Regions from separate parts of the Homo sapiens genome. Here all the other regions are linked to region 2. Evidence: fine-mapped expression QTL. A gene starts in region 2. Each other region holds a variant in brackets. All regions are shown on one strand. Distances are from middle to middle. Region 1 overlaps TFR2 (transferrin receptor 2). Region 2 holds the start of TFR2 (transferrin receptor 2). Region 3 has its middle 14 kb from the start of NYAP1.

Evidence for each region. PIP is the estimated chance that this variant, and not a neighbour inherited with it, causes the effect. A credible set is the group of variants that fine-mapping cannot tell apart.
Region 1: its variant is the best candidate, but not a certain one, in a credible set for the expression of TFR2 in whole blood (INTERVAL, PIP 0.70).
Region 3: its variant is the best candidate, but not a certain one, in a credible set for the expression of TFR2 in prefrontal cortex (CommonMind, PIP 0.63).

What each region holds. Positions count from the first base shown.
Region 1 is chr7:100,618,771-100,621,443 of GRCh38, forward strand. It overlaps TFR2 (transferrin receptor 2), which reads right to left. Exons shown (of 18, transcript NM_003227.4): 18 at 1,650-2,356. The coding sequence ends at 2,087. Among named protein-coding and RNA genes, the nearest start is that of MOSPD3, 7.6 kb to the left of the region's middle. The variant C/T (reference allele first, on the strand shown) is at 1,417.
Region 2 is chr7:100,639,918-100,642,590 of GRCh38, forward strand. It overlaps TFR2 (transferrin receptor 2), which reads right to left and starts at 1,635. Exons shown (of 18, transcript NM_003227.4): 1 at 1,560-1,635; 2 at 1,059-1,311; 3 at 769-955. The coding sequence starts at 1,592.
Region 3 is chr7:100,496,637-100,499,309 of GRCh38, forward strand. No RefSeq gene overlaps it. Among named protein-coding and RNA genes, the nearest start is that of NYAP1, 14 kb to the left of the region's middle. The variant C/CAAAAAAA (reference allele first, on the strand shown) is at 1,234.

The DNA of each region.
Region 1 (2,673 bases), 21 kb before region 2:
ACGCCACCACACCTGGCTAATTTTTTTTTTTTTTTTTTTTTGAGACAGAGTCTCGCTCTGTTGCCCAGGCTGGAGTGCAGTGGTGCGATCTTGGCTCACTGCAAGCTCCGCCCCTCGGGTTCACGCCATTCTCCTGCCTTAGCCTCCCGAGTAGCTGGGATTACAGGCGCCCGCCACCACGCCCACCTAATTTTTTGTATTTTTAGTAGAGACGGGGTTTCACCGTGTTAGCCAGGATGGTCTCGATCTCCCGACCTCGTGATCCACCTGCCTCGGCCTCCCAAAGTGCTGGGATTACAGGCGTGAGCCAGCGCACCCAGCAATTTTTTTACTTTTTGTAGAGATAAGATTTCACCATATTGCCCAGGCTGCTCCGGAACGCCTATGCTCAAGCAATCTGCCTGCCTTGGCTTCCCAAAGTACTGGGATTACAGGCGTGAGCCACTGTGCCAACCTTGAAATTCCTAATAATTTTTGTTACCCTGAGACAGAGTCTTGCTCTGTCACCCAGGCTGGAGTGCAGTGGCATGATCTCGGCTCACTGCAACCTCTGCCTCCCGGGTTCAAGCATGAATTTATGTTTTGAAAGTGTGTCCCCATATCCAAAGGAGTGCAACATTAAATATCAAATAAAAGAATACCATGACAGGTTGAGAAATTGTAGAAAACAAAAACAAAAAAAAGCTTTGTTCCTTTTTTTTTTTTTTTTTTGAGACAAGGTCTCATTCTGTCACCCAGACTGGAGTGTAGTGGCTCGATCATAACTCACTGCAGCCTGAAATTCCTGGGCTCAAATTATCCCTGCCTTGCCTCAGCCTCCTGAGTATCTGGGAGTACAGTACACACCACTATGCCCAACTAAAGTTTTTTAGTTTTTGTAGAGACAGGTTCTCCCCTGTGTTGTCCAGGCTGGTCTTGAACTCCTGGCTTTACATGACCTTCCCGCCTCATCCTCCCAAAGCACTGGGGTTACAGACATGAGCCACCGTGCCCAGCTTGTTTCTGCTTTTGAACAAGGGGTCCTGCATTTTCATTTTGCAGCAGGTCTTGCAAATTATGTAACCATTCCTCATCCCAGGACAAGATACTGGCCAGGTGTGGTGGCTCATGCCTGTAATCCCAGCACTTTGGGAGGTTGAGGTAGGCAGATTGCCCGAGCTCAGGAGTTCAAGACCACCCTGGGCAACATGGTGAAACCCCCGTCTCTACTAAAATACGAAAACATTTAGCCGGGCGTGGTGGTGCACACCTGTAGTCCCAGCTACTCAGGAGGCTGAGGCAGGAGAATCGCTTGAGCCCGGGAGGTGGAGGTTGCAGTGGGCCGAGATTGTGTCACTGCACTCCAGCTTGGGTTACAGAGTGAGACTCCGTCTCAAAAATAAAAAAAGATACCGAAGGCCCCTTCTCCAAAGACCA[C/T]CTGCTTTATGGTGGTCTTTGGAGAAGGGGCCTTCAGTATTTCCTTAGGCATTTTCCTTGAGTGATAGAAACAGCTCGGTTTTCCCCGTGGAGACAGCATTCCTGTGTGCACCCTCTCTGGTCCCTTCTGCCCAATTCCCTAGGTCTCTAGGAAGGGATGATGGGATGGGATGGGCATGAGGGTGAGGAAGAAGCATGAAGGCGCTTATCAATAACAGATGTCAACAGGTGGCTTATTGATATCAGGTGGTTTATTGATATTGAAACTCCACGCCCCTTTCACCACAGACCACCTGTTGGCCATAAGGCTATGGTGCCAGCGATCTCTCCCACTAACAGAGCTGGCCAGGTCCCAGGGCCTAGCAAACCTCCCAGAGTGGTCTCTAGGTATGGAGGACCCCAGAAAGGGGAAGGGGCTGTGATTGAAGGGATGCTACTCTCTGATTAACCGACAGTATGACCGTCACATTAGGGTCAGCTACACTGCAGGGCTGGGGTGTGTGGATATCTGTGCTGGGGTCTGGGCTCCGTGGAGAGATGTGTAGGGGTAATGAGAAATTGATCAGCAATGAGAGGTGGACTCTGAGCCACCTCCCTGACCCTGAATCATTCAAGCGAGGAGCAGAGGAGCTCTTGACTGGGGGACGGGGATGTGAGGATCCCCAGGGCCTCAGAAGTTGTTATCAATGTTCCAGACATCCCCGCTAAGCGCATTGGCTGCCCCTTGCAGCGTCCAGGTGAGCAGGGCTAGCTGACGCCGGAAACGGCTCTCCTGGAAGCCAGTGGAGGAGGTGGCCCCGGGGGTCCCGGAGCTGTTGGAGCGCAGCAGCCGCAGGTGGTCCAGCAGGGCGCCCAGCGTGTGGTCTCCACGGCCCATGAAGATGTGGCGGAACGGGGAGTCGGCTGGCGACACGTACTGGGAAAGGAAGTAGAACTCCACCTGCGCAGAGAGGGGGATCAGGTCAGGGTTGGGGGCTCTGGCTCGGGAGCAAAGGCCCGAGTCACCCTTCCCGCCAGCCAGTCTTTTTGTTTTTTTGTTTGTTTGTTTTCTTTTTGTGTTTGTTTTTTGTTTGTTCGTTTGTTTTGAGACGGAGTCTCGCTCTGTCTCCCAGGCTGGAGTGCAGTGGCACGATCTCGGCTCACTGCAACCTCCGCCTTCAGCGTTCAAGCGATTCTCCTGCCTCAGCCTCCAGAGTAGCTGGGATTACAGGCACCCGCCACGACGCCCGGCTAATTTTTGTATTTTGAGTAGAGACG
Region 2 (2,673 bases):
GGGACTAGAGGCGCCCGCCACCATGCCCGGCTAATATTTTGTGTTTTTAGTACAGACGGGGTTTCACCGTGTTAGCCAAGATGGTCTCGATATCCTGACCTAGTGATCTGCCCGCCTCCGCCTCCCAAAGTGCTGGGATTACAGGCCTGAGCCACCGCACCCTGCCGTTATTTTGTTTTTGAAACAGGGTCTCGCTCTGTCTCCCAGGCTGGAGTGCAGTGGCATAATCTCGGCTCACTGCAACCTCCGCCTCCCCGGCTCAGGCAATCCTCCCCCGTCAAGCTCCCAAGTAACTGGGACTACAGGCACTCGCCATCATCCCCAGCTAATTTTTGTGTTTTCTTTGGTAGAGACGGGGTTTCATCGTATTGCCCAGGCTTGCTTGCTTGGTTTTCTGATTCCCTAGAATGCGGCTTCTCAGAACCCCTCAGCGCTCCCTGCTCCAAATCTAGGCGCCTGGGTGAGGCATTCAAGGCTTTTCTGGGTCTGTCCAGTCTGATACTGGATGCTGCACCCCTCTGATCTCAGACAGTCAGCTCCCTCACCTCCCAAATATGCCACCCTCAGAGCCTCAGTCCCCTGGAACCTCAGCTCCGAATGCCTGCCATCCTTCCCAGGACCGCTGAACAGGGGGGCCAGGAAGGCAGATGGGAGGACTCAGGAGGGGGACCCAGACACCAGAGGCCTGGGCCAGGAGGCAGGGAGGCCCAGTCTGAGCGGATGAGGGGAGGGACACTCGAGAACAGGATGGGGCAGGGCCATCCCTACCTGATGGTGTCCTCCAGGCGCCCCTCCCCCAGGAACTGCAGGAACATGGCCTGGAGGTCGCTCCAGTAGAGTCTGCCCTGGTGGAAATCCAGGTCAGGCTCATAGTTGACATCCTCACTGACCACCAACACAGAGTCTCCGCACGCCTGGCAGGACCCTCGGAAGGCGACGTAGCCCAGTAGGAAGGCTGGCGGGTGGCAAGATGGGGATTCTCTTTATGCCCACCTCTGGACCCCAGAAATCTCCCCCAGCCCAAGCCCTTCACTTCTGGGGAGGGGGACGGCTCTCACCCCCAGTGAAGATCAGCAGGGCCGTCAGGACCAGGTAGGGGGCAGCCCTCCGTCCTGCTGCCGCCCAGGGAATGAGGTTTGGCTGCCTGGGTCTAGAGCCCAGGGGCTCAGGGCCCCTCAGCTCCATGGGGCAGAAGTGGGCCAATGTCTCCGCCCCCTCCTCCCCGTCTTCCTCTTCCTCCTCCAGGTGCCCTTTCCGGGGGCCTTCCACACGCTGGTAGACGGTCTGAGAGGATCTTGGGGACAGTTGTTGCTGTGCAGGCGAGGTGGGCATGAGATTGGGGCAAGAGGCCTGGGGGGTGGGGAGGCATCTGGCAATAATGAGGTCAGTGACTTGGGGGTGTCAAATGAGCATGGTGGTGGGGGCGTGGGGGAGGGGCAGGGGTGGGAAGAAGCGAGGTCAGGACACGGTCCAGGAGGGGCCAGCCTCAGGGGCTTGGGAGGGGGCTGAGGGACTTAGAGAGAAGGCCTAAGGGGTCTTCCCAATCCCACTAGTCTTACCGCTCTCTGGAATAGACCCCAAAGCCGCTCCATGCTTGTGTCCCCTCCTGAAGCCTGCAGGCTGTCCCCCAGCGATAAACCGATAAACCGTTTGTGGGAGCCCTAGGAGGGCCCCTTATCAGTCCTGGCAGGCAGCCTGAACCAAGGCTGCTCCTCACCACCCCCAAGGGTGGGGGCACAGTCCTGGCCTCAGTCCAGCCTTCCAGACGTGGCCCCCGGGTCCAGGCCAGAGCACAAGGGGCTGTGCTCTCCCCTGCCAATCTCTCCACAGCCCCACGCCTGCCTCCTCCCTGCAAAACAATCAATTTTTTGACCTTGGGGCGGACTTTGGCCTCCTAGTTCCCATCAGGGGTGGGGGAAGGGGGCCGATAGTGGGGGAGGGCAGAGACATGGGTGCCCCCTCCCCTCTCCTGCTTTTACCCCTCCCTGGATCCTGGGGACCCCTTCCTAAGCCCCGCCATGCCCAGGTGGAAGATTCACCCCTAAGACATCTGCCCCTTCCTCATCTGGCCTTCAGAGTCCCCCAGTGCCCCGGTCCTGTGACATATCAGCTGTCCTCCCTGTCCTGACACTTGCCCCAGTGGCATTCTAAGCTGGAGGCACCACAGTGGTGTGACTTGGGGGTCTGGTCTGGTGGTGTGCATGTGTGTCTCTTTTGAAAGGTCGTTCTCAGACTCCTGCTGGCTGCTGGAGAAGGAGGGGCACAGGTGGGAGCACATGGTCAGATGAGACCAGCGAGAGCTCCCAGATAGGGGTCCTGGGGTCAGGGATATGTGGGTCAGTGGGGAGGAGTGATCAGAGTCCCCGCCAAGGTGTGGGCAGAGCTGGGTGACCCTGGACAAGTCATGGTCCTCCCTGGGCACCGGCCCGTTTGGTCACCGAAGGACTTGGATCACATGGGTTTCTACCTCTTTGGGTTCTGAGGCTGATGAAAGGCCAGTTAGCCTCACCCCAGAAACATGTCACAGGCATAAACTGCTAAACAGGCAGGGGGCGCAGGTCCCCAAACCCTTCCGAGGGCCCCAAGACAAGTAGCTCTGAAGAGGAGGGCTCAGGGTCCCACCAAGTTTCCCTTTCGGGTTTCCCCTGGGAAACATCAGCTCCTACTCAGGTC
Region 3 (2,673 bases), 140 kb before region 2:
TTGGGCTTGGTGGCACACGTTTGTAATCCCAGTTACTCAGGAGGTTGAGGTGGGAGGATCGCTTGAGCTCAGGAGGTCAAGGCTGCAGTGAGCCATGGTTGCTTCACTGCATTCTAGCCTGGGCAACAGAGTGAGACCCCGTCTCAAAAAAAAAAAAATGTGGTAGATGCCACAAGAGATGTTTTTACACTTTATGAAGAAGAGCATTTTTTTTTAAACTGTAATAGTTTTGTATTTATTTTCACTTATATTAGAAAAGTTATAACCAATACATAAGGCTACTTGTTATTTCATGAATGTGATTACACAAGATAAGTCTAGAGTTATTTTTAATGAGCTGGTTTAAAGAAAAAATGTTAAGCCAATAAATAATAGTACAGGCAATGTACAGAATATGAAAAATTATGACAGTGGTATGTGAGTATTTGAAATTTAGGAAACAAGTTAAAAGTAAAATGATGATAGCTCAGGAGACAGGACAAGACTATGGACATTAGGAGTAATTGACATAGAAATGGCACTCAAGCCCAACACAGCTGACCTCTGCAAGGAGGGCAGGGCTAGAGAAAAGAGCTAGGGATGAAATACAGGCCAGGCACAGTGGCTCATGCCTGTAGTCCCAGCACTTTGGGAAGCCAAGGTTAGAAGATCGCTTGAGGCCAGGAGTTTGAGACAAGCCTGGGCAACAAAGCTAGACTTCATCTCTACAAAAAAAATTAATAAAAATTAGCTGGATGTAGTGGTGAGCACCTGTAGCTGGAGCTACTCAGGAGGCTGAGATGGGTGGATCGCTTCAGCCCAGGAATTGGAAGCTGCAGTGAGCTATGATCCCTTCACTGCATTCCAGCCTGGGCAACAGAGTGAGACCCCAACTTGAAAAAAACAAAACAAAACAAAAAACAAAACCCAAGATATAAACAGGCAGTAGCTCTTTTTAACTAGCCAGAAAATTAGACCGGGTGAGGTGGCTCATGCCTGTAATCCCAGCACTTTGGGAGGCCGAGGCGGGCAGATCACTTGATATCAGAAGTTCGAGACCAGCCTGGCCAATATGGTGAAACCCTGTCTCTACTAAAAATACAAAATTAGCTGGGTGTGGTGGCGGGCACCTGTAATCCCAGCTACTCAGAAGGCTAAGGCAGGAGAATTGCTTGAACCCGGGAGGCAGAGGCTGCAGTGAGCCGAGATCGCACCACTGCACTCCAGCCTGGGTGACAGAGCAAGACTCTGTCT[C/CAAAAAAA]AAAAAAAAAAAAAAAAAGTTAATTAATGGAAGGGGCTGGGTGCAGTGGCTCACGCTTGTAATCCTAGCACTTTGGGAGGCCGAGGTGGGTGGATTGCCTGAACTTGGGAGTTCGAGACCAGCCTGGACAACATGGCAAAATCCTCTCTAGTGAAAATGAAAAAAATTAGCCGGGCATGGTAGTGTGTGCCTGTAGGTCCCAGCTATTGAGGAGGCTGAAGCAGGAGAATCACTTGCATCTGGGAGACGGAGGTTACAGTGAGCCAAGACCATGTAGCTGCATTCCAGCCTGGGCAACAGAGCAAAACTCTGTCTCCAAAAAAATTAAAAAAAAAAAGGAAAGGAAAATTAATGGAAGGAAATATCCCATTCATAAGAGCAATAAAAACCTTAAAATAAATAGGAGTAACATTAACAAGAAATTATAGAACCTATATTGGATCAGTTGATAACACTAAAGTATTTTGAGTCACTTAAAAAGGGAAGACCTTGGCTGGCCGTGGTGGCTCACACCAGTAATCCCACCACTTTGGGAGGCTGAGGCGCATGGATCACCTGAGGTCAGGAGTTCGAGAGCAGCCTGGCCAACATGGTGAAACTCTGTCTCCACTAAAAATACAAAAATTAGCCAGGCATAGTGGTGAGTACCTGTAGTCCAAGCTACTCTGGAGTCTGAGGCAGGCAAATCACTTGAACCCAGGAGGTGGAGGTTGCAGTGAGCAGAGATTGTGCTACTGCACTCCAGCCTGGGGGCCAGAGCGAGACTCCATCTCAAAAAAATAAAAGTAAAAATAAATACAAAAATACAAAAGGAAAACCTTCAGGACAAACAGCTATCGTGGAGCGAGGGAGAAGGAAGGCTTGTGGGGTCAAGCACAGTGGCTCACACCTGTAATCCCAGCACTTTGGGAGGCCCAGGCAGGAGGATGACTTGAGCCCAGGAGTTCCAGATCAGCCTGGGCAACATAGCAAGACCTTGTCTCTACAAAAAGTTAAAAGAAAAAAAAAAGGCTAGGCATAGTGGCATGTGCCTGTAGTCCCAGCTACTCAGGAGGCTGAGGTGTAAGGATCACTTAAGCCCAAGGAAATCAACACTGCAGAGAGCTATGATTGCACCACTGCCCTCCAGCTTGGGCAACAGAGCAAGAACCTGTCTTAAAAAAAAAAAAAAAAAGGGCCGGGCGTGGTGGCTCACACTTGTAATCCCAGCACTTTGGGAGGCTGAGGCGGGCAGATCACAAGGTCAGGAGATCAAGACCATCCCGGCTAACACAGTGAAACCCCATCTCTACTAAACAAAATACAAAAAATTAGCCGGACGTGGTGGCGGGCACCTGTAGTCCCAGCTACTCGGGAGGCTGAGGCAGGAGAATCTCTTGAACCCGGGAGGCGAGCTTGCAGTGAGCTGAGATCACGCCACTGCACTCCAGCCTGGGCGAC